Linked DNA regions of Homo sapiens. The protein of the gene in region 2 interacts with the protein of the main gene of each other region in a pairwise test. Each region holds a gene or a part of one and is shown on either strand. Other genes may lie near its edges.

Evidence for each region.
Region 1: the proteins of MAPK6 (region 2) and NELFB interact in a two-hybrid assay, tested with the Homo sapiens proteins (one large-scale study listed by BioGRID and IntAct).
Region 3: the proteins of MAPK6 (region 2) and MON1A interact in a two-hybrid assay, tested with the Homo sapiens proteins (one large-scale study listed by BioGRID and IntAct).
Region 4: the proteins of MAPK6 (region 2) and CNTRL interact in a two-hybrid assay, tested with the Homo sapiens proteins (one large-scale study listed by BioGRID and IntAct).
Region 5: the proteins of MAPK6 (region 2) and SEPTIN3 interact in a two-hybrid assay, tested with the Homo sapiens proteins (one large-scale study listed by BioGRID and IntAct).
Region 6: the proteins of MAPK6 (region 2) and ZNF600 interact in a two-hybrid assay, tested with the Homo sapiens proteins (one large-scale study listed by BioGRID and IntAct).
Region 7: the proteins of MAPK6 (region 2) and NRXN2 interact in a two-hybrid assay, tested with the Homo sapiens proteins (one large-scale study listed by BioGRID and IntAct).

Annotation. Positions count from the first base shown.
Region 1 is NC_000009.12:137,253,676-137,258,243, reverse strand, and holds the start of NELFB (negative elongation factor B), read right to left. Parts: upstream 2,918-4,568; 5' UTR 2,879-2,917; coding exon 2,633-2,878; intron 2,338-2,632; coding exon 2,174-2,337; intron 1,916-2,173; coding exon 1,816-1,915; intron 1,421-1,815; coding exon 1,190-1,420; intron 1-1,189. UniProt on the Homo sapiens protein: Essential component of the NELF complex, a complex that negatively regulates the elongation of transcription by RNA polymerase II.
Region 2 is NC_000015.10:52,046,526-52,050,566, reverse strand, and holds part of MAPK6 (mitogen-activated protein kinase 6), read right to left. Parts: coding exon 3,552-4,041; intron 575-3,551; coding exon 430-574; coding exon of another isoform or gene 425-429; intron 1-424. UniProt on the Homo sapiens protein: Atypical MAPK protein. Phosphorylates microtubule-associated protein 2 (MAP2) and MAPKAPK5.
Region 3 is NC_000003.12:49,922,940-49,926,980, forward strand, and holds part of MON1A (vacuolar fusion protein MON1 homolog A), read right to left. Parts: intron 1-4,041. UniProt on the Homo sapiens protein: Plays an important role in membrane trafficking through the secretory apparatus. Not involved in endocytic trafficking to lysosomes.
Region 4 is NC_000009.12:121,144,130-121,148,170, reverse strand, and holds part of CNTRL (centriolin), read right to left. Parts: intron 3,329-4,041; coding exon 3,212-3,328; intron 2,928-3,211; coding exon 2,786-2,927; exon of another isoform or gene 2,781-2,785; intron 2,064-2,780; coding exon 1,915-2,063; intron 1-1,914. UniProt on the Homo sapiens protein: Involved in cell cycle progression and cytokinesis. During the late steps of cytokinesis, anchors exocyst and SNARE complexes at the midbody, thereby allowing secretory vesicle-mediated abscission.
Region 5 is NC_000022.11:41,986,092-41,990,132, forward strand, and holds part of SEPTIN3 (neuronal-specific septin-3), read left to right. Parts: coding exon 1-21; intron 22-1,114; coding exon 1,115-1,196; intron 1,197-1,530; coding exon 1,531-1,668; intron 1,669-3,475; coding exon 3,476-3,593; intron 3,594-4,041. UniProt on the Homo sapiens protein: Filament-forming cytoskeletal GTPase. May play a role in cytokinesis.
Region 6 is NC_000019.10:52,763,323-52,766,917, reverse strand, and holds the end of ZNF600 (zinc finger protein 600), read left to right. Parts: coding exon 1-1,331; 3' UTR 1,332-2,734; downstream 2,735-3,595. UniProt on the Homo sapiens protein: May be involved in transcriptional regulation.
Region 7 is NC_000011.10:64,720,145-64,724,614, forward strand, and holds the start of NRXN2 (neurexin-2-beta isoform alpha-1 precursor), read right to left. Parts: upstream 3,054-4,470; 5' UTR 2,827-3,053; intron 1-2,826. UniProt on the Homo sapiens protein: Neuronal cell surface protein that may be involved in cell recognition and cell adhesion.

The DNA.
Region 1 (4,568 bases), on a different chromosome or scaffold from region 2:
ACTGAGGTAGGAGGATTGCTTGAGTCCAGGAGGTCGAGGCTGCAGTGAGCCACGATCACACCACTGTACTCCAACCTGGGTGACAGAGTGAGACCCTGTCTCAAAAAAAAAAAAAAAAAAAAAAACCCCAACAAATCTCGGCTAGGCATGGTGCCTCATGTCTGTAATCCCAGCACTTTAGAAGGCTGATGTGGGAGGATCGCTTCAGCCCAGGAGTTCAAGACCAGCCTGAGCAACATAGCCAGACCCCACCTCTACAAAAATATATATATATTTTTAAGTAGCCCCAGTGTGGTGGCACGTGCCTGTGGTCCCAGCTACTCAGGAAGATCACTTTAGCTCAGGAAGTCAAAGCTGCAGCGAGTCGTGATCACGCCACTGCACTCCAGCCTGTGCAACAGAGTGAGACCCTGTCTCTTAAAAAAGAAAAAAAAAGAAAAAAAGCCAGGCACGGTGGCTCACCCCTGTAATCCCAGCACTTTGGGAGGCCGAGGGGGGCGGATCACCTGAGGTCAGGAGTTCAAGACCAGCCTGACCAACATGGAGAAATCCCATCTCTACTAAAAATACAAAATTAGCCGGGCGTGGTGATGCATGCCTGTAATCCCAGCTACTCGGGAGGCTGAGGCAGGAGAATTGCTTGAACCTGGGAGGCGGAGGTCGCAGTGAGCCGAGATCACGCCATTGCACTCCAGCCTGGGCAACAATAGCGAAACTCCGTCTCAAAAAAAAAAAAAAAGAAAAAGAAAAAAAATTAGCCAGGCATGGTGGCGGGCGCCTGTAGTCCCAGCTACTCGGGAGACTGAGGCAGGAGAATGGAGTGAACCCGGGAGCTTGCAGTGAGCCGAGATCACACCACTGCACTCCAGCCTGGGCAACAGAGCGAGACTCCGTCTCAAAGAAAAAGAAAAAAAGTAGGGGAGGGGGGATTAACTTCACATGAGCGGGCTTTCCGCAGATTTTAAATGTTGTCCATATATCACTTTAACGAAAAGTAAAATGCAAACAGAAAAACAACCAACTTTCTTTCCAGCATGTGTACAAGCCAGCCCTCCCCCACCACCCAGCCAAGAAGCAGAACCACCCGATCATTCACAGGGCAGCAGAGTGCTGATCCCCAGGCAGCTGAAGGCGCTAGCCGTGGCATCCCCAAGAGGTGCCCCACCCCGCACACGGCCTGTCCCCTCACCTCGCCCTGGCGCCTGGTCTTGGGGGAAGGACTGAAAAAGTTGTGCAGGACAGAGAGCTCTGTACTGAAGAGAGCGCTCTCCTTCTCCAGGATGTACTGCTTCAGGAGTGGGGAAACCTCGTCCCCGAAGAGGGCCTGGTTGTCTTGCCAGATCTGCCGCTTCACCTCCACGGCGCAGGCTCGATACAGCTCCTTGTCAGCCATAACCAGCTTCAGTTTTTTCTCCGGAACCTACATGACACCACAGGCTGCCTGTGAGTGGCACCTGTGTCCCTGGGTCTCCTTCAAGACAAGCCAAGAGGCCTCAGCCCCGCAGAGACCACCTCGAGCTAAGCTCCACCCCACAGGGCACCTATGACTGGTTCCCCGGCCCCAGCATGTCAGACAGACATGCTAAATACCAACAGCTCTTTCCCAGGAGGGGCCCCACACCCTAACTCCAGTGCTAAGGTTCGGTCTCCACGCGGCTCATGTGGGAGAAGTCAGCACAGAGCTCACCATGGACAGCACTTGGGCAGGCAGCACAGGAAGCTCCCGGAGCTAGGCGGCCACCGGAACTTCCACTAACCAAGGGCATGAGAGTGGGCGGACGGTCCACGCCATCAGGGTTAGGGTTAGGGCCCTACCTTGGGCAGGTGCTTCATGACGCACATCACCACGGGCTGCAGGGACGGCATCTTCACCAGAGAAAAGCTCTTCTCCAGAAGGTCTTCCAGCTTCTTGTACCTGGAACAACTCACAGGATTGATGGTGCAGCGATGCGCCAAATCGCAGCAGCTACCTGCCTGTCCCTACACAGATAACAGCTACCAGGACAAGCCTCCACGCCCAGGACACATGGGTCAAGGGGTCACTCAGACACAGGCCCAGGCCACCTCTGGGAGCAAGGATGTGGAGCCAAAAGGACAATAAATGCCCCTGAGTCGATCCAAGGCTGAGAGGCCGGCTGCACATCTCACCTGCCCACCCCTCCCGCTGACCCACCTTTCCTCAGCCTTCCCCTCCGAAGCGATGGCTGACACTCGCTCCAGCAGCTTGTCCCGCAGCTCATCGAATACCGACTGGTGGAACTCCAGCCGCGGCGTCCCGTGCAGGTCCAAGAAGGGGAGGGCTGACTGAAGAGATGGCAGCAGCACACCATTCTCTGTCTGAGGAAGCCAAGAGAAACCTCAAACGCAGCCCAGTGCGCCCGGGCACCCCGAGGTCCTGAGAGCACAGGGAGGCACGCACCCAGGTGTTCCCAGCCGTGCTGGCGGTAACCGCAGCCACCGAAAGCCACCCAGCCGTCCAGCAAAGGGGTGCTGGCTCCGGACTCCACCCCCAGAACAGGACTCAGCCACCAGCAGAAAGCCGGAAAACTTCCGGCGCCTCCGCCAGGCCCGACTCCCGAGCAGGCGGCCCGGCCCTCCAACTGGGCTCCCCCCGCCCCGGGGGCCGCCCCACCTGGAACTGCTCGATGGCCTTGAGCGGCTCCGTGCAGTTGGTCAGGGTCTCCTTCAGGTCCTCGCCGTTGGCCACGCCCAGGTCCTGCAGCCCCGCGAACATGGCCGAGGCCCCGGCCACCGCCCGGCTAGGCGCCCCATCCCCAGCCCGTTCCCCCGGCGCCGCCGCAGACACCCCAGAAGCCCGCTCCGCCGGGCCTCGGGGACCGCCCGAGCCCCGCTCCCCGGCGCCCTCCAGCTCGGCCAGGTCCCGCCCGCCGCGCGACTCCGCGCGCGTCCCGCAGCCGCCCACTTCCGCCCCGCACCGCCCAGGTCCGCCCGCCAACCGGCCCCCGGGAAACGCCGCCGGGGCCGCGCGCAGGTTCCTGGGAGCAGCGCCCTCACCCGGCGCGAGAGACCCCGCCCAGCCAGCCCAGCGCGCATGCGCCCACCCGGTCCCGCCCGCGCCCGGGCTTTCTGGCAGAAGAGGGCGGGTGAGGGCGTGGGGGGCGGACTCAGGGTCCGTCTGCTCCGGGAACGGACGTCGTCGCAGCCGAGTGAATTTCGTGTACATAAGCGTGGAAAACGCTCTTGCAGATCTCGCGGCAGCCACGCGCAGCGGGGACGTTTTGCCGGGGGTTGAGCTCCCCGCCCCTCTGCCCCGCAGGGGCCGGACACAGGCGCAGACTCCCTCCTGAGCGTGGGTTCCTCCGCGTGAAACGGGCACGAAGCCCACCCCGGCGCTGTCGCCAAAACTGAGATCTGAGCGCCTTCAGGGGGCCGGGGCCTGGCGGAGACCGGGCCCGCAGCGGGAGCGCGAGCGACGGCCGCCCTCCCAGGCACCGGGAGGCTGTGGCGCCCACCGAGCTCCGCGGAGCCGTGAAGGAGAGTCCAGGTTCCACAGTGTCCCTTCTTATCCCAGGCGGGTGGGCTCCCCGGGCCTCCCCGCCTCTCCAGCCCGCCGCCCTCCCGCAGGCTGTGCCGCGCCAAGCCCCCTACACACACCCTCTCTCTTTTCGGTCTCCGCTGCTGAAATTTTCTCTAGAAATTTCTTTCCCGCTGCCCAGCAAACTCTTGCTCTTCCTTGAAGGCTTCTTCCTCCACCACCTCCTCCAGGAAGCCCTCCCTCCTCAGCCCAGCTGGAGGAGATCGCTCCATCTTTCCTGCCGCTCCCACTCCTAGCTTTGGGTCTCACCAGGGGTGCCTGGTGGTGCAGCCGTGAGCAGAGCTCCTGTTCCCACAAGCCGGGCCGAGCTCCCAAGGCCATGGCTACCACAGCTCTCTTGCCGCTGGCCAAGTTGGTCAGCCCTAGGGCGAGGGTTCCAGTGCCTTGATCCAACCCCCAGCTGGTTCGGTGGCAGAGGAGGACAAGGGTCACAGCACACACACAATCCTGAGCCTGGGATTCCTCTCTGAGAAAGGGGGTGGTGCTGAGGCCACAGAAGCAGCTGCCCAGAGCCTTTTTGAAGGGGTTGAGCTCTGGGCCTGGTCTGGGTCCTGGGTCTGGGGAGGACCTGGGGAGGTGCGGGTGACGGCACCGCAGGTAAGGCTCCTGCAAGGTGGCAGCCTTGGGGCCCGACCCTGGGTAGGAGGGCAGGCCAGTGATGACAAGGGAGGCCCCAGCCAGGCGAAGTTGCAGGCAGGGGCAGTGCAGGGTCCCAGCAGGTGAAGGCCCCGGGAGTGGAGTCTGCAGGGCCCTGGGCCAGAGTGTTCAGGGCACAGGTGACTAAGCCCAGCCAGGTCTTCAGCTCAAGGCCTAGGGGAAGTGGGGCTGGGCCCTGGTGAGCAGATCCCTGGGCCCTTCCTGAGGTCTGGCCAGGCCGACCCCACCTGGAGGTGGCGGCTCAGGGCATTTGACGCCTCCTTCCCAGTTCCCTGGCTCGGCAAGCAGCTGACCCTCAGGTGGACAGCAGCTAGACCAGGCCCCTGAGTGACACGGCTGGGTGGGGGTGTCCCAC
Region 2 (4,041 bases):
ACACACTTCTTTAGACTTCTAAATAGCACCAAACTTAACAAAAAATTACTTGTTTGGTTGTTTATAGGGGGAGGGGACCAAGAAAAATTTGTTGGATTTTCAACAATGGCTTAAAATTTTCACCAGGAAGTGATGATACTGACAGAATTATGCAACTTAAGTATCAACACAAATTACCAACAAGTATTATGGGTCCACAAAATATGAAATTATATTTAAACAGGAGTTCTGATAATTTATGAAGTGACCAATTTAGTGAATATGTGAATAAGTTTTCTCAATTTTTTTATTAAAAACGCCAATTTATCTGTTCATTTTAGTATTACAGATCATAACAAATTATTTTAAATCTTATATGAATCTTGCTTCAGAGATAAAATGCAAAATTACTTCTCTTTGGGAAAATTTTTCCCCCCACAAAATACTAACCTGCAAAAAGGGTTTTACCAGTCAGCATTTCAGCAAAGATGCAGCCTGCAGCCCACATGTCAATGGCTTTAGTATAATTATTAGGAGAAAGTAAAAGACGTGGAGATCTGTACCATTTAGTAACCAATCCTTCAGAAAGATGACCCTATAAAAGAAACAAAAAACATACTTTTTTTACTTTAGCTGAAGAACAGTACTTACAACTTGATTAAAGAATCCTTAATTTGCCAGGCGTGGTGGCTCATGCCTGTAATCCCAGCATTTTGGGAAACCAAGGTGGGCGGATCACCCAAGGTCGGGAGTTCGAGACCAGTCTGACCAACCGGAGAAACCCCATCTCTACTAAAAATACAAAATTAGCCAGGTGTGGTGGTGCATGCCTGTAAACCCAGCTACTTGGGAGGCTGAGCCAGGAGAATCGCTCGAACCCGGGAGGTAGAGGTTGCGGTGAGCCGAGATTGTGCCACTGCACTCCGCCCTGGGCAACAAGAGCTAAACTCCATCTCAAAAAAAAAAAAAAAAAAATCCTAATCTTTAACCCCAGCACTTTGGGAGGCCGAGGTAGGTGGATCACTTGAGGTCAGGAATTTGAGACCAGCCTGGGCAACATGGTAAAACTCTGCCTCTACTAAAAATACAAGAATTAGCCTGGCATGGTGGCACACGCCTGTAGTCCCAGTTACTTGGGAGGCTGAGGTGGGAGGATCACTTAAGCGCAGGAGACAGAGGTTGCAGTGAGCAAAGAGCAAGACCCTGTCTTTAAAAAAAAAAAAAAAAAAAAAAAAATTATATAACTCTAGGCCACACATTCAAAGCATTTTTCAGAAGACGAGCTGGTTTACACTCAGTCTTGAGATAATCAAAGAGCAAGTATGCTTCAAGTCAGAACAGTAGGGAAGAGCACCAGAGGTGCTACTTATAAACCAATGTCTACCTCCTTAATGACCTCTACTATAAATCCTATTCATCACCTATTCAACTACTTTACAATTACAAAGCACCTTACAAAACCTTACACATATATTGCCTTATTTCATCCTCAAAACTACCCTGAGAGATTGTGATGGTAGATATTAACTCCATTTTATAGGTGTGATGACTGAGAGAGTGAGATCTGCTTCAAGTCATATAGCTAGTTGGATGTAGAAATGGAGTCAATTTTATATAGTATAAGTCTTATTAGTTCAGTGCTCTATCCACAATACTTCACTGTGGATACAGTGCTCTACCCACAATATTTCACTGTGGACGTCGTCAGTGTAATACTCATCTCTTTTTCTTTTTCTCTAGGAAAAAAAAGTTGTCTGTGTTGCCCAGGTTGGTCTCAAACTCCTGGCCTCAAGTGATCCTCCTGCCCCGGCCTCCTAAAGTGCTGAGATTACAGGCAGGAGCCACTGCGCAGGTTGGTCTCAAACTCCTGGCCTCAAGTGATCCTCCTGCCCCGGCCTCCTAAAGTGCTGAGATTACAGGCAGGGGCCACCGCGCTTCCAGCCTAGAACTCATTTTCTACAAAATATCTTTTTTGTTTGGAAATGGAGTTTTGCTCCTGTTGCCCAGGCTGGAGTGCATTGGCGCAATCTCAGCTCTTTGCAACCTCCACCTCCTGGATTCTCCTGCTTCAGCCTCCCGAGTAGCTGGAATTACAGACATGCACCACCAGGCACAGCTAATTTTGTATTTTTAGGAGAGACAGGGTTTCACCATGTTGTCAGGCTGGTCTCAAACTCCTGACCTCAGGTGATCCGCCTGCCTCAGCCTCCCAAAGTGCTGAGATTACAGGTGTGAGCCACTGTACCTGGCCCAAGTAAAAATACCTTAATGTGGGCTGGGCGTGGTGGCGGGCGCCTGTAATCCCAGCTACTTGGGAGGCTGAGGCAGGAGAACTGCTTGAACCCAGGAGGCGGAGGTTGCAATGAGCTGAGATCACACTATTGCACTCCAGCCTTGGTGACAAGAGCACAACTCAGTCTCAAAAAAATAAATAAATAAAAATAAAAATAATCTTAACGTGAAACAACATGTATGAAGATTTGTCTTAGGCATGTACTGTGGAAAGCTAACAAAGCAGGGCTCCCAGGGGTTCTTTACAACCAAAGCAGCTCCACCTCTCTAATTTAAACATCAGGGTCCCACATAAGATTTCATTTCCAAACTAAAAGACCAAGGTTCAGCTTGAAAAATATTAAATTCTTGTATGAAGGCAATTTGCTATCTAAGACGAAGTTGCTGTGAGATCTTTTTGGCTATACTTATTACCAATTGTTTATGTGAATTTAGATTTCAAGCTAAATTTAGTTTAAACAAAGCAGAACTGAATAGTACAGGCTCAAAGAGACAAAAGAAGACATAAGCTTGGGTGTGCTGGCATGCACCTTTAGCCTCAGCTATTCAGGAGGCTGAGGCCAGAGGATCACTTGAGCCCAGAAGTTTGACACCAGCCTGAGCAACACAGCAAGATCTTGTCACTAAAAACTTAAAAAAAAAAAAAAAAAGGCTGGGCATGGGGGCTCACACCTGTAATCCTAGCATTTTGGGAGGCTGACGCAGGCAGATCACTGGAGGCTAGGAGTTCAAGACCAGCCTGGCCAACACGGTGAAACCCTGTCTACTAAAAATACAAAAAAATTAGCTGGGCATGATGGCACGCACCTGTAATCCCAGCTACTTGGGAGGCTGAGGTACAAGAATCGCTTGAATCCAGGGGATGAAGGTTGCAGTGAGCCGAGATGGCGCCACAGCACTCTACCCTTTGTGACAGAGTGAGACTCTGTCTCAAAAACAAAAGACCTAAAGTTGAAATAGCATCCCCTCTTACCACAATTCTGTCCCAAAGAAAGAAGAGTATATTCCACTTTTAAATAACTAAGGGAGAATTTCATTTATAATAAATAACCATACACTTTAAAATTTCATTATAATAACCATGTATTTTTAGAAATTTGTATTTAATTATCCCACTCCACCTTCATTTCAAACAGAGAGACTTGTTTCAGAAAAAAGGCACTATGTAAAGTTTAATAAGATTAAAAATTCTGCCACAATATACAAAGAAAATATAAGTACCTATTCCTGATTAGGTGTATCAGTTTAAAGATCTGTCTCAGCTGGCTTTCTATACATACCTTATGGGAATAATGAGGATCCATGATCCGTGCAAGACCAAAGTCACCTATCTTCAGCACCAAGTCTTCCGTATTAATGAAAAGATTAGCTGGTTTGAGATCTCTGTGCAGTACATTTGCAGAGTGAATATACTTGAGCCCCCGTAGCAGCTGATACATGAAAAGCCTGGCATGCTCTTCCAGTAAAGGGCCCTGCTCCAGCACATTAGCCAAGTCTGTCTCCATGTACTCCTGAACAATGTAAACACTGTTCAGTTCCGTAAGAGAGCCCACATCGTCTGTTAATTGGCTTCCACTGGGACCAAGAATCTCAAACACTTTCACAATGTTATCATGGTCAAGTCTTCTAATAATTTTGATTTCACGTAGAGCATGTTTGACACTCTGGGGATCAGTAAGGACAATTTTCTTGATGGCTACTCTTTTGTCACAGTCATTGTCTACAGCAGAAAAAACCAAGCCATTGCCTCCACAACCCAATGGTTTTAAG
Region 3 (4,041 bases), on a different chromosome or scaffold from region 2:
ACCTGGTGATCCGCCTGCCTTGGCCTCCCAAAGTGCTGGGATTACAGGTGTGAGCCACCACACCTGGCCAAGAAAGACAATCTCATCCTTTCAGTTGTTTGGTGAAAAACCGTGGAGTCAGCCGGGCACGGTTTCTCACACTTTGTAATCCCAGCACTTTGGGAGGCCGAGGCAGGCAGATCATGAGGTCAGGCGATCGAGACCATGCTGGCTAACACGGTGAAACCCCATCTCTATGAAAAATACAAAAAATTAGCCGGGTGTGGTGGCGCATGCCTGTAATTCCAGCTACCCCGGGAGGCTGAGGCAGGAGAATCCCTTGAACCCGGGAGGTGGAGGTTGAGATCGCGCCACCGCACTCCACCCTGGGTGACACAGCGAGACTCTGGGAGGGAAGGAAGGGAGGGAGGGAGGGAGGGAAGGGAGGAAGGAAGGAAGGGGAAGGAGGGGAAGGAGGGAAAGGAAGGAAAGGAAGAAAGGAAGGAAAGAAAGAAAGAAAGGAAGGGAAGAACGAAAGAAAGACAAGCTCTTTTTTTTTTTTTTTTGAGACAGTCTTGCTCTGTTGCCTAGGCTGGAGTGCAACAGCGCAATCTCAGCTCCACCTCCCAGGTTCAAGCGATTCTCATGCCTCAGCCTCCCGAGTAGCTGGGACTACAGGCGTGTGCCACCACATTGGCTAATTTTTGTATTTTTAGTAGAGACAGGGTTTCACCATGTTGGCCAGGCTAGTCTCAAACCCCTGACCTTGTGATCTGCCCACCTTGGCCTCCCAAAGTGCTGGGATTACAGGTGTGAGCCACCTCACCTGGCCAAGAAAGACAATCTCATTCTTTCAGTTGTTTGGTGAAAAACCTTGGAGTCGGCCGGGCACGGTTTCTCACACCTGTAATCCCAGCACTTTGGGAGGCCGACGCAGGCAGATCATGAGGTCAGGAGATCGAGACCTTGCTGGCTAACACGGTGAAACCCTGTCTCTACTAAAAATACAAAAAATTAGCCGGGCATGGTGGCACGTGCCTGTAGTTCCAGCTACTCAGGAAGCTGAGACAGGAGAATTGCTTGAACTGGAGAGGCAGAGGTTGCAGTGAGCCAAAATCGTGTCGTTGTACTCCAGGCTGGGTGGCAGAGCGAGACTCTGTCTCATAGGAAAAAAAAAAAACAAAAAACCTTGGAGTCATCCCTTACGCCTCTCTTTTTTTCCCCACACCTCATATACCAAACCATCAGCAAATCCTGTTAGCTCTATTTCAGAATACAGGCACATCCAGCAAAATGTCTCTAGTTAACATTTTCACCATAGAATGCCTTTTTGTTTTTAATATCCAGCTTGGTTGTCAGCCTTCAAGATGGTCTCTAGTAATCCTCAACTCCTGCTATGCGACTTTGCATACTCCCTTTCCACACTGAGCAGGGCTGACCTATGCAACCAATAGGACACTGTGTAAATAACAATGTGTGGCTGGGGACAGTGGCTTATGCCTGTAATCCCAGCACTTTGGGAGGCCAGGATGGGCTGATCACTTGAGGTCAGGAGTTTGAGACCAGCCTGGACAACATGGTGAAACCCCATCTCTACTAAAAATACAAAAATTACCTAGGTGTCATGACGGGCGCCTGTAATCCCAACTGCTTGGGAGGCTAAGGTATGAGAATCACTTGAACCCGGGGGGAGGCAGAGGTTGCAGTGAGCTGAGATCGCACTGCTGCACTCCAGCTTGGGTGCCAGAGCAGACCCTGTCTCAAAAAAAAATGAAAAAACAATGTGTGACTTCTGAGGCTAGGTCATAAAAGACATTGTGGCTTCTGCCTTGTTCTCTTGGATCATTCCCTCTAGGGAAAGCCATCAGCCATGTTGTAAGGACATGTAAGCAGCTCTATGGAGAGAACTTCATGGCAAGGGACTGAGACCTCCTGTGAACAGCCAGTACCAACTTGCTAGTCATGAGTGAGTCATCTCGGAAGCAGATCATCTAGGCCCAGTCAAACCTTCAGATGACTTCAACGTAATAAGAGACCCTGAGCTTGAGCCATCCAGCTAAGCCACTCCCAAATTCTTGACCCACAAGAACTGTATGAGATAATAAATATTGTTGTTTTAAGCTGCTAAGTTTTGGCATAATTTGTTACACAGCAATAGTTAACTAATATACCAAACTTATGTTGATTCAGCTTATGTTTATTTATTTATCTATTGAGACAGGGTCTCACTCTGCCACCCAGGCCGAAGTGCAATAGTGTGATCATGGTTCACTGTAGCCTCAACCTCCCAGGCCCAAGTGATCCTCCCACCTCAGCCTCCCAAGTAGCTGGGACCACAGGCATGTGCCACCATGCCTGGCTAATTTTTTAATTTTTTGTAGAGACAGGGTCTCCTTATGTTGCCCAAGCTGCTCTCAAACTCCTTGACTCAAGTGATCTGCCTGCCTCAGCCTCTCAAAGTACTGGGATTACAGGTGTGAGCCACCACACCTGGCCCAGTGTATGTTTATACAGAAAATATGTATATTTACATCATTAAAATCTTATCTATATTTTTAACAAAGTAATGTGCATTTAAAGCTTCAAATTATATTCCAAATAGAACTGATAGAAAATTACTGAGTGCCAGCCTGGCTGACATAGTGAGACCCTGTCTCTACAAAATAAAAAATCAGCTGGGTGGGGCAGCTCATGCCTGTAGTCCCACCTACTTAAGAGGCTGAGGTGGGAGGATCGCTTGAGTACAGGAGGTCAAGGCTGCAGTGAGCCGTGATTGTGCCACTGTACTCCAGCCTGGGCAACACAGCAAGACCCTGTCTCAATCAATCAATCAATGGAAAATATATTAAGTTGAAGATTTCACACAGAATGTCCAATTTTCATGAAACAGATTACTGATGTTAAGTGGGAAATGCCTATATCCAGAATCTGACCACTTGTCACCTCCACAGCTACCACTGTGGTCAAAGCCACCAGTGTCTCTCTAGGAGATTGTTGCAGTAATCTCCTATCTAGTCTCCCCTCTTTTGCCCTTGTCCCTGCATAATCTGTGCTTCTTACAGCAAAGTGATTCTCTTGATACAGAACTCAGGTCATGCAGTTCCTCTGCTCACAACTCTGTAATGGTCCCACCTTACTCAGTGAGAAAGCCAATTTCCTCACAGTGGTGCACAAGGCCCCACTCAACATAACTCCTTCCCCATTACTTCTTTGACCTCATCTCTTATCCTTTTTCCCCACTAACTGTGATTCAGCCCAGCCATAGTGGCCTCCTGGCTTTCCTTAAGCCTCCTGGGCACTCTTTAACTTTAGAACTTTGCCGTTGCTGAACTTTCCCCCTGCACCCCACTTCACCTACTCCATTGCCTGGGCTAGTTATCTATGTGACTCAGTCCCTCACTCCCTTCAGGTTGCTGCTCAAGCATTACCTTATCAATATCCCTGCTCCTTACCCCTCTTGCCCTGCTTTATTTCTCTGGATTGAAGGTTACCCTGTGACCTACCACAAATTTCAGTATGGCTTTAAGCCACATGCGGGAGGAGTTCTATTTTTTTTGAGACAGAATCTCACTCTGTCACCCAGGCTGGAGTGCAGTGATGCAATCACAGCTAACTGTAGCCCTGGCCTCTCAGGCTCAAATGATCCTTCCACCTCAGCCTCCTGAGTACCTGAGACTACAGGCACGTGCCACCACGCCTGGCTAATTTTTTAATTTTTATTTTTGTAGAGATGGGGTCTCAGTATGTTGTCCAGGCTGTTCTCAAACTCCTGAACTGAAGATCCTCCCTCCTAGGGCTCCCAAAGTGCTGGGATTACAGGTGTGAGCCACCACATCCAGCCAACAGACATCTTTGGGAGGGAGATTTTTTTTTTTTTTGAGATGGAGTCTCATTCTGTCGCCCAGGCTGGAGTGCAGTGGCATGATCTTGGCTCACTGCAACCTCTGCCTCCTGGGTTCAAGCAATTCTTGTGCCTCAGCCTCCCGAGTAGCTGGGATTACAGGTGTGTACCACCATGCCCATCCAATTTTTGTATTTTTAGTAGAGATGGGGTTTCATCAT
Region 4 (4,041 bases), on a different chromosome or scaffold from region 2:
GAGAAATGAAAATAAGTTCTCCATAGTGATGAGACTCCCGGGTGTCAGCCTCTGTTCTCTCTGTAGTCATTTTTCCTAGTGGTTTTTTGTTTTGTTTTGTTTTTAACCTCATCCTTGATGGCCCAGTGACTGAGGCAAAGGAAACCAGTGAACTTCGAAGAAATCTGGGGTCACCAGTCTTCTGTGGTCCTGGGAGCTTGGCATGGCTTTAAAGCTCTACTCTGCTACCCTCCTTCTCCTTCTCAGTCTGTAGGTACATCCTCTAAACCCTCACCCAGCTCAGGCTTATATGTTTTGCTCTAATTTATACTGCTTCCACCTCCAGCTCTGGTTGTACCAAGGAGTTGGCTTCCTTTAGGATTGCTGGGAGAATCTAAGATTCTGCTCTTCAGGGGTCTGGTTAAGTCTACACAGCCCTGAGAACCTAGTGTGTCTGAGCTGCTTCTCCCTGACTATTGCTCATCGGCTGATTCTAGCAGGATAGCACCAGGCCCCTCTGCTTTGGATGAATACAGCCTATAGTCTTCTCCTCACTTTCAACATTCAGGCCCCAGTCTTCTCCTCACTTCCCACATTCAGGCCCCAGGCCCTAACCATTTCTCTTTAACATCCTTTAATCTCATCTCCTCTTTCCCAGCTCCACTGATCTAGCTCTGGCTTCTACTCTTTACCTGAATCAGTTTAAAGAGCCCCACCGAAAGCTCACCCTACCATAAGTATAGACTCTATACTAGCCAGAATATTATTCCTAAACTACAGCTCTGATCATTTTAGTACACAACCCATTTCTCATGGCCTACATAATTATGGCCTACATAATTAAGTGTAAGAGATTCTAAGGCCCTTTTAAAAAAGCATGACTCCAGGCTGGGCACGGTGATGGCTCACGCCTGTAATCCCAGAACTTTGGGAGGCCAAGGTGGGCAGATCACCTGAGGTCAGGAGTTTGAGACCAGCCTGGCCAACATGGCAAAACCCCATCTCTACTAAAAATCTAAAAATTAGCCAGGCGTGGTGGCGCATGCCTATAATCCCAGCTACTCAGGAGGCAGAAACCGGAGAATCGCTTGAACCCCGGAGGCAGCAGTTGCAAGGAGCCAAGATCACACCACTGCACTCCAGCCTGGGGGACACAGCAAGACTCCGTCTCAAAAAACAAAAAGAAAAACAAAAGCATGACCCCAATCTACTTTTCAGCTTCATCTGACACTGTTCCTATAAACCCTCTAGCCCCACAAAGCTATTTGTCTTTGCTAAGCCAATAACTCTCCTCTTCCATACGAGCTGTTTCCTCCCTCCTAAAAGCCCAACGCTCACTGCTTGCTAAGTGCTGACTTCACATCCCTGCTTGTGAAGCATTCCTTCCTGAACTTCCCATCAGATGAATCCTTAATACCTCTCTGCAACTAGAGAATACAGGTCAGGTCTGTTGTCATAGGTATGTCACCATTTTGCAATTATGCTGGCATGGCCAATGAACTCTTTGAGAGCAGGGGCTTTACCATTCATTGTGATGCCCCACCACTACCTAGCACTTGGCCTAGGCTTCAGTAAACACTGAATGAATGTTCGTTAAAAGGACATGAAATCCAGGTGCCTTTTTTTCTGTCGGAGGCTCTGCACAATTCTATGTCCATTTCAGCAGGCTCTCTGGGCTCAAATCACCTTTTCTCCTTAGAGCATCCACATTCAAGGACCCTAACACATACCGCCCGAGTATGAACAGTCAACTGTCACCTTCCCCAAGAAGGCCCTATTTTCATCTCAAATATTAAAAACGCTACAGAACCTCAATGCACGGCTTAGCATAGAAATGTTGTTTTTGGTACCTGTTCATAAATTTGGGGAAGGGGACAATGTCACACTTTCTTCAAGAAAATTCAGTATACATTCCCAACACCACAGAATTCCTACTTTTGATGATGGTGGTGGTGGCATAAAGTACCAATAGCCTCGTCTTTTGAAAGGATCTGCCATGCTGCTTATGTAATCATTCTGATAAGAAACTTCACGTCGAAGTTCAGCAATTTCTTCTAAAACATTTTCAAAGCCTCCTTTGTTGTCTGTAAAGAAAAGTCATTCTATGAAATTGATATGAAATCACTTACTTCCTTTCTCAAAATATAAAAGAGATTCTAAGAGAGCCAATTAATTTTATCAGTTCCTCAAAGCTGACTTTCAGTCTGCCCTTTGGTAAGTCAAAAAAAGGCAAACTGATTTGTAAACATTATTTATTTTGAAATTACAAATACAAAACTCTTTTTTTCTTTTTTTGAGACAGAGTCTCACTCCGTCATCCAGTCTGGAGTGCAGCGGCCCAATCTCGGCTCACTGCCAACCTCTGCCTCCCAGGTTCAAGTGATTCTCCTGCCTCACCTTCCCGAGTAGCTGGGTTTACAGGTGCCCACCTCCATGCCCAGCTAATTTTTGTATTTTTTAGTAGAGACAGGGTGTCACCATGTTGGCCAGGCTGGTCTCGAACTCCTGACCTCAAGCGATCCACCCACCTCAGCCTCCCAAAGTGCTATGATCACAGGCATGAGCCACTGTGCTCGCCCACAAATACGAAACTCTTATCTTGGCAACCAAGTCCCCCAGTAACACACTTACAGAAAATACTCTTAAAATTATCTGATTTATTTTATTTTACTTATTAAGCTAATTACCACAGCTCTCTGAATCAAGCATGGACTTGATTTGTAACAGTTAAAGGTAAAAAACAAATGAGATGATTTAATTTTATGACTACAAAACCACTGCCAAAAATCAAAGCCCAATACTTTACCACTTCCAGTGAGGTCTAGTACATTCTGCAGCCTTGCAATCTCTGTCCTTTGTCGTTCCATTGTCTCATTCAGTTTCTCAATTTCTAGGACCTGTGAGTTTGCTCCAGTACCTACACCTGTTTTCTCCATCTCAAGTCGAAACTATTTAAAAAAATTACACATACAAAGTTGCCAATGAATTCATTCTTTCCCAAACACATTTATCCTTTCAACTTGATTATGATTCTATATTTATTTACACTTTCCCAGTGAGGAAACTGCATTACTTGGAAACTGCACCAAGCCTGGCACACAGTAGAGGATAAAGTACTTATTAACTATTGATTGCACTTCAGAATTCTTTGAGACATCACCTACAGTAATTTTGTCTTTTAGGAACTGATAAGAATCTGAGAAAGAGGAGGTCTCTGGGTACCAACACTGACCTGCTCCCCCTTCTGCCTGAGGAGATTCTGCAGGAGTTCGATCTCAGCTTCTGCTCGGGTGAGATCTCTGGCTGCTTGTGCTGCCTTTCTGCTGAACCTCTCTGCTTCCTGCAACTCCTACTGGGACAGAAGTATGAGAAAGGCACCACTGCTATCACAGGTTGTCTTCTTCATTTCTTCCTCTTGGATTGATTCTTCTGCTTTCATCACATTGCCTACCAGGCTGTCCATGAAAAGGGACATCCAAGCCCCACCTTCTCCTGTGTTGTTCCCATTGTTGGGCAGCCTGCCCAGCTCCCAACCCCAAGGTGCGGCATCAGAAAGAACAAAGGCTAATTTTTTTACTTTTTTACTTTTACTACCGTCTTCCATGATTATGTCTCTCTGGGCTCTCATCATTAGATTTTTGTCTCCTATGATCTGCTATCTTAATCTCATTAGCATTTGCATCCTATAAAGCACAGTAACAGACATTAGCTCAGTAAGGAGTCATACTATGAAGTAACATTTTCACATGACTGCACGAGATGAAAAATTTGAGATTCAGAGGGATTATATAACAATCCTTCAGGAACCCTTGTCCAGGTAGATATTGACAGCTACCTCCCTAAGCATCCTTACACTTAAAGGTAGGGATAGCATGTTTATTTGATGATTCCTTTCAGGGCTCAGTAGAACGCAGTATCCATGGCAGCACAAAATAAATTATTGGGGGTTGTGATGGGGGGAATATAATCTTTAGGTCTTAAGAAAAACAGACAACTTTACAGTGGTTTATAAAATAACCAATGTCTATAGCAAGATCAATAATACAAGTTGCCATGTTTTTT
Region 5 (4,041 bases), on a different chromosome or scaffold from region 2:
AGATCAAAGCTATCGGGCATGGTGAGGACCAGGCAGGGACCCCTATGGGCTTTGTTCAGTGAGTGCCTCTGCTGGAAAGGGGAAAGAATGGGGCTTATTGAAGAATAAGATCAATAAAAGGCAACCTTAAGACAAAACAGACGTGAGCACTTCACTCTGAAGCAAACTCCTTAGACTGCAGGTTCAGGGAAGAGAGAGCAGGGAGCTCGAATGGAAGGAGGTGAGATTTGAGGTGGATGATAAAGTACAGGATTTAGACAGGTAGAAAGAGGTAAGGAGTGGGCAGGTACGGTGGCTCATGCCTGTAATCCCAGCACTTCGGGAGGCCAAAGTGGGAGGATCGCTTGAGTCATGGAGTTCGAGACCATCTTGGTCAACACAGTGAAACCCTGTCTCTTTTTTTGTTTGTTTGTTGTTTGTTTTTTTGAGACGGAGTCTTGCTTTGTCGCCCAGGCTGGAGTGCAGTGGTGCGATCTCGGCTCACTGCAAGCTCCACCTCCCGGGTTCACGCCATTCTCCTGCCTCAGCCTCCTGAGTAGCTGGGACTACAGGCACCCGCCACCACGCCCGGCTAATTTTTTTTGTATTTTTAGTAGAGATGGGGTTTCACTGTGTTAGCCAGGATGGTCTTGATCTCCTGAGCTCGTGATCCGCCTGCCTTGGCCTCCCAAACTGCTGGGATAACAGGCGTGAGCAACCACGCCCGGCCCGAAACCCTGTCTCTTAAAAAAAAAATTAGCTGGGTATGATGGTGCATATCTGTAGTCCTAGCTATTGGGGAGGCTGAGGCGACAGCATCACTTGAGCTGGGGAGTTCGAGGCTACAGTGAGCTGTGATTGCACCACTGCACTCTAGCCTGGGTGACAGAGTGAGACCCTGTCTCTTAAAAAAAATAAAAGAAGAAGAAAAAGAAATGAGTAGAGAGGGTATTCCAGATTCCAGGTACAGGGAACAGCATAAGCCATGATATCGAGATGGAAAAGACCCTAAATTTGACTTTTCCAATAACTGATCCTGAAGACAAGGCCTGGGTCTCCCTGGCTAGTAGGCTGCCAGGTACCTGGGGTCAGCTGTAGGACTGACCTCTCTGGTACATTTTCTTTTCACCCCCAGTGATAGAGGAAGGCGGTGTCAAAATGAAGCTGACCGTCATCGACACCCCAGGCTTTGGAGACCAAATCAACAATGAAAACTGGTATCTGTCTGCCTCTGAGATCTTTGCCCTAAAGACTCTGCTGGGAAGATACTTACTATGGTGCAGATTCATTCACGTTGAGAACCATCTGCACCCTCCATGCTCTGTAGTTCCCGACAGCCCAGGCCAGGGCCCCTGGGGAGCTCCACCCCTGCTAACTAACCATCCAGGAAAGCCATCGGTGCGGGGGCTGAGGGGGAATCTGGCAGCAGGTATCCTAGGCCCACCAACCAGGGAATGACATGAATGTAAGGAGATTGCTACCAGATCATGCCTAAGCTGAGCCCTAGGTCTTGTTCTTCTGATGCATCTATCTACTTTCCCTCCCCATCAGCTGGGAGCCCATTGAGAAGTACATCAATGAGCAGTACGAGAAGTTCCTGAAGGAGGAGGTCAACATCGCCAGGAAGAAACGCATCCCTGACACTCGTGTCCACTGCTGCCTTTACTTCATCTCTCCCACAGGACACTCGTATGTACCAACCCTACCCCTATTGTCAGGCCTGGTCTGGTTTGTATCATCTGTGCCCATCTGGATTGGATGATCCATACGTTGACTCAGCTAGGCCTCCCTAGCTGAGTCCTAGCCCTTCCAGCCAGATGGGTTGGTACATAGTCATGGCCCATGACCTTGGGATTCCCTAGACTTTCCACGAGGAAGTTTGACTTTCTTGCTAGGAGGTTAAAGCTGTCCAACATCAGCCACCAATATCTGCCCACTGGTGTCCCAGCAGCATGGCACAACTGTATCAGCAAAGAGGACTTGGTGAATGTGAGCAGAGGGCACTTCATTTATTCACCAAATACCTGCTTTGGAAAATAATTGGAGTCGGAGGGAGCAGCAAGAAGGGTGAAATAGGGCAGTGCAGGGCTCCTGGATTGGGGCTGGTGTTTGGAGGGTAGGGACCCAGTTGTAGGCATTTAGAAGGTACCAGCCTGGAGTGAGGCATTGTGTGTTCAGAGATGAAGGCCAACCATTGTCATGAAGTACTATCTGATAGGCAGAATAAGACACACACAAGCATGTTGGGAACTCTGATTGTGAGTGACAGGTGGGCCCCATGAAGGAAGTGCTGGGAACAGGCAGAGGATGGAGATCCTAGGGGGCAGGCCAGAAACCTTCCTGCAGAGACCGGGGGAGGGGGGTCCCATAACATTACTAAGCCCAGCTGCTGGGCCAGAGTTAAGCTCTTCAGAGGATGGCACAAGCAAGGTAAGCCCCAAATTTTCTAGGAACCAGGCAGTGATGGTAGGGGGAGAAGAGAGATGAAACAAGACCCCTGGGCTAGACCCAGGAACTCAACAGAAGGCTGGTTTTATCCCTCCCTAGGCTTCGACCCCCTGGTCAGAATGAACCATCAGACAGACTGACTTAGTGAGTCCCTGAGATTGCAAAATAGAGCCAAGTTGGGGTCTCAGAGCCTGAGGTAGGATGGGGGCATAGACTGTCAGATTGTGGGAAGGGCAAGGCCTCCAGTTTGGCCCTGCAGGACTAACTCTGGGGGCTAGGAGGAGACCTGTCAAGAAGTAGTCTGATAGGCAGAACAAGATGTACACACTAGGCACGGTGGCTCTCGCCTATAATCCCAGCACTTTGGGAAGCCGAGGCAGGAAGATTGCTTGAGTCCAGGAGTTCAAGACCAGCGTGGGCAACATGGCAAGACATTGTCTCTACACAAAATTTAAAAATTAGCCAGACATGGTAGTGCGCAACTGTGGTCCCAGCTCCTCTGGAGGCTGAGGTGGGAGGATTGCTTGAGCCCTGGAGGTCAAGGCTGCAGTGAGCCAATGACCATATCACTGCACTCCAGCCTGGGTGACAAAGTGAGACCCTGTCTCAAAAAAAAAAAAAAAAAAAAAGACACACACAGTGTTGTTTTTTTTTGGTTGTTGTTGTTTGTTTTTTGTTTTTGAGACAGACAAAAAAGGAAAAAAGACACACACGCACAAGGACATATGAGTAGAGACAGTAGTCCACAGATGCTCCCAGGAGAAAGAAATCCCTGAGTCAGAAAAGATGTCCTGAAGTGGTGGTTTGAGGGGGGCTTAAAGAGAGGCAGAATCTGCAAGGGGACTGAAAAAGAAAAAGGCAGGTGTTGAGGCTGCTCTACAGACGGCAAGGCAGTGGGGCTGTGTCGGAGACGAGAGGTAGCAGCCTCTTGGCCTCAGCCAGATGCCCAGCCCAGTCCTCTTCTCCTGTGGGTGTCCTGGAGTGGTGGTGGTGGCTGAGTTGGGGAGGGCAAGGTGGCTCTGATGATTCTGCCTTTTCTGTGCCCCAGCTTGCGACCTCTGGATCTTGAGTTCATGAAACACCTCAGCAAGGTTGTGAACATCATCCCTGTCATTGCTAAGGCTGACACCATGACCCTGGAGGAGAAGTCTGAATTCAAGCAAAGGGTGAGAAGGCCCCCTGTCTTCTTTTCCTGTTCCCATCCCCTCCTTTCTCTCCGCTGGGTTCAGGCCATCTCCTAGCCCTCATCATTCTGCCTTCACCCCCACCCTCAACCCTCCCCCAATTCTCCACCCCAGCCCCCTTCTTAACCATTCAAGAGGCTGAGGTTGGTGGTATCTGGGGACTATGATGAAGAAAAGATGGCACAGCTCTGGGCTGCCTTCTTCCCACCCTCCAAACCTACCTGTGAAGACCACTGAATACATGTATCACTGTGTACATAAGAAATCACTCCTCCAACGTTAGCCTAATTGAAGGGCTAGACTAATTAGTGAGTCAACTGGCCACTAGTCCTCACTGGCATCTTCTCTTTGTTTTTTTTTTGGAGTCTCTCTCTGTCGCCCAGGCTGGAGTGCAGTGGCGTGATCTCGGCTCACTGCAAGCTCCGCCTTA
Region 6 (3,595 bases), on a different chromosome or scaffold from region 2:
ACAAAGCTTTTAATCAGCAATCAAACCTTGCACGTCATCGTAGAATTCATACTGGAGAGAAACCTTACAAATGTGAAGAATGTGACAAAGTTTTCAGTCGGAAATCAACCCTTGAGTCACATAAGAGAATTCATACTGGAGAGAAACCATACAAATGTAAGGTTTGTGACACAGCTTTCACATGGAATTCTCAGCTGGCAAGACATAAAAGAATTCACACTGGAGAGAAAACTTACAAGTGTAATGAGTGTGGCAAGACCTTCAGTCACAAGTCATCCCTTGTATGCCATCATAGACTTCATGGTGGAGAGAAATCTTACAAATGTAAGGTCTGTGACAAGGCTTTTGCGTGGAATTCACACCTGGTAAGACATACTAGAATTCATAGTGGAGGAAAACCTTACAAGTGTAATGAATGTGGGAAGACCTTTGGTCAAAATTCAGATCTTCTAATTCATAAGTCAATTCATACTGGAGAGCAACCTTACAAATATGAAGAATGTGAAAAGGTTTTCAGTTGTGGATCAACCCTTGAGACACATAAGATAATTCACACCGGAGAGAAACCATACAAATGTAAGGTTTGTGACAAGGCTTTTGCGTGTCATTCCTATCTGGCAAAACATACTAGAATTCATAGTGGAGAGAAACCTTACAAGTGTAATGAGTGCAGCAAGACCTTCCGTCTGAGGTCATACCTTGCAAGCCATCGCAGAGTTCATAGTGGTGAGAAACCTTACAAGTGTAATGAGTGCAGCAAGACCTTCAGTCAGAGGTCATACCTTCATTGCCATCGTAGACTTCATAGTGGTGAGAAACCTTACAAGTGTAATGAGTGTGGCAAGACCTTCAGTCACAAGCCATCCCTTGTTCACCATCGTAGACTTCATACTGGAGAGAAATCTTACAAATGTACGGTTTGTGACAAGGCTTTCGTGCGTAATTCATACCTGGCAAGACATACCAGAATTCACACTGCAGAGAAACCTTACAAGTGTAATGAATGTGGGAAGGCTTTTAATCAACAATCACAACTTTCACTTCATCATAGAATTCATGCTGGGGAGAAACTTTACAAATGTGAAACATGTGACAAAGTTTTCAGTCGCAAATCACACCTTAAAAGACATAGGAGAATTCATCCTGGAAAGAAACCATACAAATGTAAGGTTTGTGACAAGACTTTTGGGAGTGATTCACACCTGAAACAACATACTGGACTTCACACTGGAGAGAAACCTTACAAGTGTAATGAGTGTGGCAAAGCCTTTAGCAAGCAGTCAACACTTATTCACCATCAGGCAGTTCATGGTGTAGGGAAACTTGACTAATGTAATGATTGTCACAAAGTCTTCAGTAACGCTACAACCATTGCAAATCATTGGAGAATCTATAATGAATAAAGATCTAACAAGTGTAATAAATGTGGCAAATTTTTCAGACATCATTCATACATTGCAGTTCATTGACACACTCATACTGGAGAGAAACCTTACAAATGTCATGACTGTGGCAAGGTCTTCAGTCAAGCTTCATCCTATGCAAAACATAGGAGAATTCATACAGGAGAGAAACCTCACATGTGTGATGATTGTGGCAAAGCCTTTACTTCATGTTCACACCTCATTAGACATCAGAGAATCCCTACTGGACAGAAATCTTACAAATGTCAGAAGTGTGGCAAGGTCTTGAGTCCGAGGTCACTCCTTGCAGAACATCAGAAAATTCATTTTTGAGATAACTGTTCCCAATGCAGTGAGTATAGCAAACCATCAAGCATTAATTGACACTAGAGTCAGTCCAGCATTGACTTGAGTTTGTGTTGACTTAACATTGAGTTCAACCCTTAATTGACATTCAAGTGTTTATGTTAAGAGGATTGGGCCAGGTGTGGTTTCTCACACCTGTAATTCCAGCACGGTTGGAGGCCAAGGCACATAGGTCACTTGAGGTCAGAAGTTTGAAACCAGCATGGCCAACAGATGTCAGCCACTTTTCCCAGCCTGTTTTTTGATTCTTATTTTCTATTTTTCTTTTTTGAGATAGTACTTTTTAAAGAGATAGTACTTTTTTGATATAGTACTTTATAAAAGGGAGATCAGGCCAGGCACGGAGGCTCATGTAAGTAATCCCAGCACTTTGGGAGGCCGAGACGGGCCCATGACAAGGTCAGGAGATCGAGACCGTCCTGGCTAACACGGTGAAACCCCATCTCTACTAAAAATATAAAATATTAGCCAGGCGTGGTGGCAGGTGCCTGTAGTCCTAGCTGCTTGGGAGGCTGAGGCAGGAGAATGGTGTGAATCCTGGAGACGGAGCTTGCAGGGAGCCAACATCGTGCCACTGCACTCCGGCCTGGGCGACAGTGAGAATCTGTCTCAAAAAAAAAAAAAAAAAAAGGATATCAAAGCTGGATGGTGGCTCATCCCTGCAATCACAACACTTTGGTAGACTGATGTGAGTGGATCACCTAAGGTCAGAAGTTCAAGAGCACCCTGGCTAACATGGTGAAACCCCATCTCTACTAAAAATACAAAAGTTAGCCGGGGGGTGGTGGTGTGCACCTTTAGTTCCAGCTACTTGAGAGGCTGAGGCACAAGAGTCGCTTAAACCTGGGAGGTAGAGGTTGCCGTGAGGCAAAATCGTGCCACTGCCCTCAGCCTGGGCAGTAGAGTCAGTCTCCATCTCAAAGAAACCAGCAAACAAAAAATATTAAAAAAAAACATTAAAAATGCTTTTGTTCTCATTGTTCAATAGACTTCCTTTTTTTTCCTTTCTGATTCCTCTTCATTTCTCTCTTTTTTTTTTTTTTGCAGTTTGAGTTTGAGATAAATCTTAGTTTTAAAAATTGTATTTCTTTCATAGTATATAATCACATCTGAAAGATGCCTTTGCAGCATCGTATAGTCAGCTCACATCATTCATTTCTGTACTTGTATATTCTCCTGTTCTTTTCCAGTTGACCCCAGAATTCATTAGATTAAAAAAAATAGTTGCTGTTTGAAATTAGTTGCATCCAGTTCAGATCGAAGTCTGCATGCTTTCTGGTCTTTGTTATTTATTGGAAGCGTTTCATACCCAATACTTAAGTTTGATTGTTTCAGTGTGTACTTGGTATAGATGTCAGTGACCTTTTAACTAAACATCAAAATGTAGTTTAACCAGTTAGTCTGTTTTTCAGTTTTCTTTCCTTATGTCATTTGTTAAAATCTTGAGCTGGGAGCTATTTATTGCGTGTTTCCCTCAAGGCCCTCTGGTCCATTCTGGAAAAATGTTGAAACATGGGCTGGATTGGCATGGAACTCTCCTCCAAAAGCACCCATGTATTCTTTTTCTTTTTTTTTCCTGAAATGGAGTCTTGCTCTGTCGCCTTGGATGGAGGGCAGTGGTGTGATCTCAGCTTACTGCAACCTCTGCCTCCCGGGATCAAGTGATTCTCCTGCCTCAGTCTCCTGAGTAGCTAGAATTACAGGCACCCACCAACATGCCTGGCTAATTTTTGTATTTTTAGTAGAGACAGGGTTTCACCATGTTTGTCAGGCTGGTCTCTAACTCTTGACCTTGTGATCCGCCCGACTCGGCCTCCCAATGTGCT
Region 7 (4,470 bases), on a different chromosome or scaffold from region 2:
ACCTTCACCCTCACCCCACCATGCCAAACAGTGGTGGTGGCAGTGGGGAAGCAGCTTCGTAAATAACAAGGTGCCACACACATCCTTGAAAGTGTGCACCAGACTATTTGTTGAATGAGTCTCCGAGAGCCCACAGGCCCATCAGTGTGGAAGGGGCAGGGGCGAGGGAGCTGCACCAACAGATGGAGCAGCAAGGTGGGTGGCGTGTGAGGACACACAATCGGGGCATCCCCGTGGGGGCTGGGCTTGGGAGCTGCGAATGAAAGGACAGTGTCTCCAGTGCACAGGCAGGTGTAGGGGCCCTTGTGCCTGAGGATTAATGCGGGGGGTGGGGCCACTTAGAAATGGGAAGGCTCCCAGGGAAACCAGGTGTAGGTGGGGGCTGGACTCCACTGGGAAGGGTCGTGGTTGTGGCCAGGAGGGGTAGGAGGCCCTGCGCCGAAGGTACAAAGATAAGTGAGTGAGAGAGAGAGAAAGTAGAAGAGAGGTTTAGGGGGTGAGCCACAGCATTAAGTGTGTTAGCAAACATGTGCTGGTGTGCACACACACGTGCACACACACAAAGGCCTGGGGCAAGGTGTTCAGCACCCAGACAGACATGCACATGGTACTTCAGGATGAGCTTGCTGGGGGGCAGGGACTGGTGTGTCTGGGAGGGTGTGCCCACATGCTGTGTAGACCTGGGAGGGATGGGGTGTCTGGAAGGAGAGGGTGTGTTGCAAGGACTGAAGGTGTATGAGGAAGAAGCACAGGTGTGCCTGCGATGGCTGTGAGCCTGGGGAGGTGAGTGGTTGGATGGGGGCTGTGTGCATCCAAGGGTGAGGGCTGGCAGTGCTGCGCTGGGGGCTCTGGGGGCACGTAGTGGCCGTGTGTGTGTTGTGTACATGGCAGCAAGGCACCTGGGGGAGGTCTCAAGGAGGCAGGCATGAGGTGGCAGCCTCTCTGGGTGGGGAGTGTGGGCTGTATGCTGCCAGGAGGTGTATTGTGTACGCAGGTGTGTGTGCCTGTGTAGGTGTGTGTCTGGGTGGGTGCCACCGAGCGCGTGTATCATTGTCAGAGTGTCTGTGTCACTGGCAAGGGTAAGCGGGAGGGAGCAGCTGGACCTGGGTAGTGACTGAGCCTGGAAGGAAAGAGGGGTCCCCACCAGCCACTCGCGCACCCAGCCCCTCCTCTCAGAACTCCAATGTCATATGGATTCAGCCCAGGCCTGGGCTGGAAAGAACTGCCCGGCAGCCGTGGCTGGTTGGTCCATCCCGCCCACCCCTGTGGATCTGAGGATAGGATGGGTCTGAGAACACTTCCTCTAGCATGAATGAAGAGCCCCCAGCCAGACCCTTCTCCCCTGTCTCCCAAAAGATCCAGCCACACCTCAGATGCCAGCATCCCTAGAGCCATCCCTGGAAGCAAGAGGAGGTAGGGACTGAGGGGCTGAAGCACCCACAAAACAGAAGGCCTCACAGTTAGCAGACTGCAGACCTCCCTCCCCTTCTCCTTCCCTCTCCCTTCTTTCTTTCTCCTTCTCTGGCAGAAGACAGAGAAAGTAAGACCCTAATGTCCACCCTCCTCCAAAAGGAACACCCAGACACTGGGAAGGTAGACAACAGGGAAGGATAAGAATGAATGGAAGAGGAGAGACGCCCACCCGCCAACACATGAAAAAACAGGGCTATCTGGAAGCCCCCAGGGCAGCCAAGGGACTGGGGACCCAAGACCCACCCCCTAAAAATCTATTTCATTATTCCAGGTGGACAGCCTCCTCCTTCACCTCCAGACACCAAGAAAAAGCCCCTCCCAGCCCTTGCTAGCTCAATGAGGCATCGAATGCCCTCTCCCAAGATTCAGGAGGGGGGTGAGAGTAAAGGAGACAACAGCACCCCAAAGCCAATTGTGCCCCAAAAGCCCATCAAGGGTTCAAGGGCTCATACCCCAACCCAAAGACCCCAGGGAAGATTGCTGCTTCAGCTGGGGGAGGAGGCTGGGACATGAGAAATGGTCCCTTCCTCTTTAGGGGTGGGGGAGCAAGCCAAGGGCCCTGCAGCTTCCTCTCCCCCTGCAGCACTCTCTGACCAGAACCCTGTCACCGCCCCCAGCGCATTCCCACCCCAGCAAAGCCCCCTCCTACTGATTTCCCAGTCTCCCTGTCTCATCACCCCCAGCCTTCCCCCGCAAGCTTCCGCTCCTCTCCCTCAGACCCCATCTTTCCCAGCTCTCCACCAGCACAGACCCATCTCTGCCTGGAGCACCTTGGCACATTCCCCTCTGCTCTCTCCCAATAACCTCTTCTCCCCTTGGCTCCCATCCCCCAGGAAAGCCTGGTCCTCAGTGGGTCCCCTCAGGACGAAGCCCTTGGCCTGGCCCCTTTCCTTCCCTCTCCACTTCTCTCTCTTCTCCAGCCCCCTCTCCTCTCCTCCCACGAAGCCCAGTTTCTCGCTGGTTAGACCCTCCAGAACACAACAGCTCCTCTGGCCCGGCGCTGCTTCAAGCCTCTGGGGCTAGCACAGACTGGGGACCCCCCTTTAAGAACCCCCTCTAAGTCCTCTGGATGCCCCTCCTCTCTCCATCCCTTCCCCCAAAGACCCTTCCTCCCACCCCTCCCCATTCTCCTCAGCTCTCAGGGCCAGTGCCCCTTCCACAGGAGCCTCCGACCCCCAAGCCCCCAGCGGCTTTGCCTCCTCGCTGTCACCGGGCCAGCCCTCTCAGCGCGGCGCCCCCGCCCCCCAATTCATCCGTCCTGCCTCCCTCGCCCCCTCCGATCCGCTCCCCTCCCCCGATCGGCTCCCGCCCCCCGCCCGTCTCCGCCGCAGCGCCCCCCCCCCCCCATTTTACCTGGTTCTCGGGGCGCCAGAAGCTGGAGGGTGGGTAGCAGAGCTACAGGGCCGCCCCGTCTCCGACGGGTGGCAGAGCCAGGGCTAGCGGTGTCTGCCGCCTCGCGCCTCTCTCCCTCCCCGCCGCGTCCCCGCCCGCCCGCCCGCCCCGCCGCGGTGCCTCTCCGAGGAGGATGCTCCGCGAGTCAGGGCGGCTGCTCCCGCCGCCGCATCCCTGCAACACCGACTGACGGCAGCATCAGCACCAGTGCCCGCCCCCGAGACGCGCGCATTGGACCACGCTGCGCTGACGGGCGAGCAGCGCAGCCAATGCAAGGGCTCAGAAGCCGCCAGTCCAGCGGCTCCACAGGCCCACTCCCTCCCTCGCGCGGGACCCAGGCGTCCCGGCCCCAGCACCCGCGCTCCTCCCAGCCTCTCGAGGTTCTCGGGCGCCCGGGCCCCCAACCAGGCGGGCCCCAAACCCGGCCTCAGTGTCTTTTCCGGGAACCCAAGCACTCTCGCCCCTCGCCCCTCGCCCCTTAGTTCGGGGCCTTGGGTCCCGCACCCTCCCCCCACGGCCAGCAGGTCTTCGCGCAGCGCGGGGCTGGGACAAGCCGAAGGAGAGGCTGTGGACCCCGACTTGGGACGCCGCGAGAGCAGGGCTGATGCGGGGCCTGGGCCGCAGCGCCCTCTGCTGGCTACCCCCAGGGGCGGGCCCGGGCTTCGAGGAGCCTAGAGAAGGGGGACTCGGTGGGTCCATGGCTGCTGGGGGCTTTTTCCAGTCGGTAGCCTGGCCCCCACCTCCCACCGTCCGGAGGGCCCCTGGCTTGGAGCCCCCAGAACTGAAGAGGAAGGGGCTTTGCTGGGATAAAGACGGAGGCGGTGGGGGAAGGAAAGGCAGAGATGGGGGCGGGGTAGACCTAGGAACTTGGGGGTTTCCCAGTCCTGCCTCATGGGAATCCCAGAGTTTGAGGCCAAACTCTCAGTTCTGCCTGGAACCCTGGACCGAGGTACGAGTAGGTGTGGGGGCAGGGTTGCGCCTGCACATGCCTGGTGACTGAGGGCACCTGGCAGCAGCCCCCTTCTCTGTTCTCCTCCTCCCATCCATGAGTTTCAGTTAGAGTGGTGCTGGGGGGCGCAGGTCTCTCCTGTAAGGGTACATGCATCACTGTGCATGTGTATGAGTGTGGGGGACTGGGGGACACCCTTCACTCACTCCGCCAATAAAAGTGTACACACACTGGCACTTAGTGTGTATACCCCGAGGTTGGTCACTGGGCTGCTGAATGAGACAGTGAGAGACAGAGTGTGTGTGTGTATGTGTGCCAGACCATTCTGCCAGCTCACTCCAGGACCCTGGTTTCTGTTGCAGGGTCTGTGATCTGCACAGCTGGTGGTAGTTGGCACTTCCTTAGCCAGAGGCAACATGCAAGAACACTTACATTCAACCACCAATGCATGGACATTGGGGCACTCACAGCCATGCACACATATCTGTGAACACTGGGCATTCCCAGAGACACATAAGAACACCTGCAGAAATGCCCCACCATGGTAACACACCCACAGGAAGCATATACTGCCCAAGAACACACACACTTGTGCACACAGGTACCTACACCAGGCAATTAATGCATGCCCAGAACAGCTGCACCCAGGGGACCTG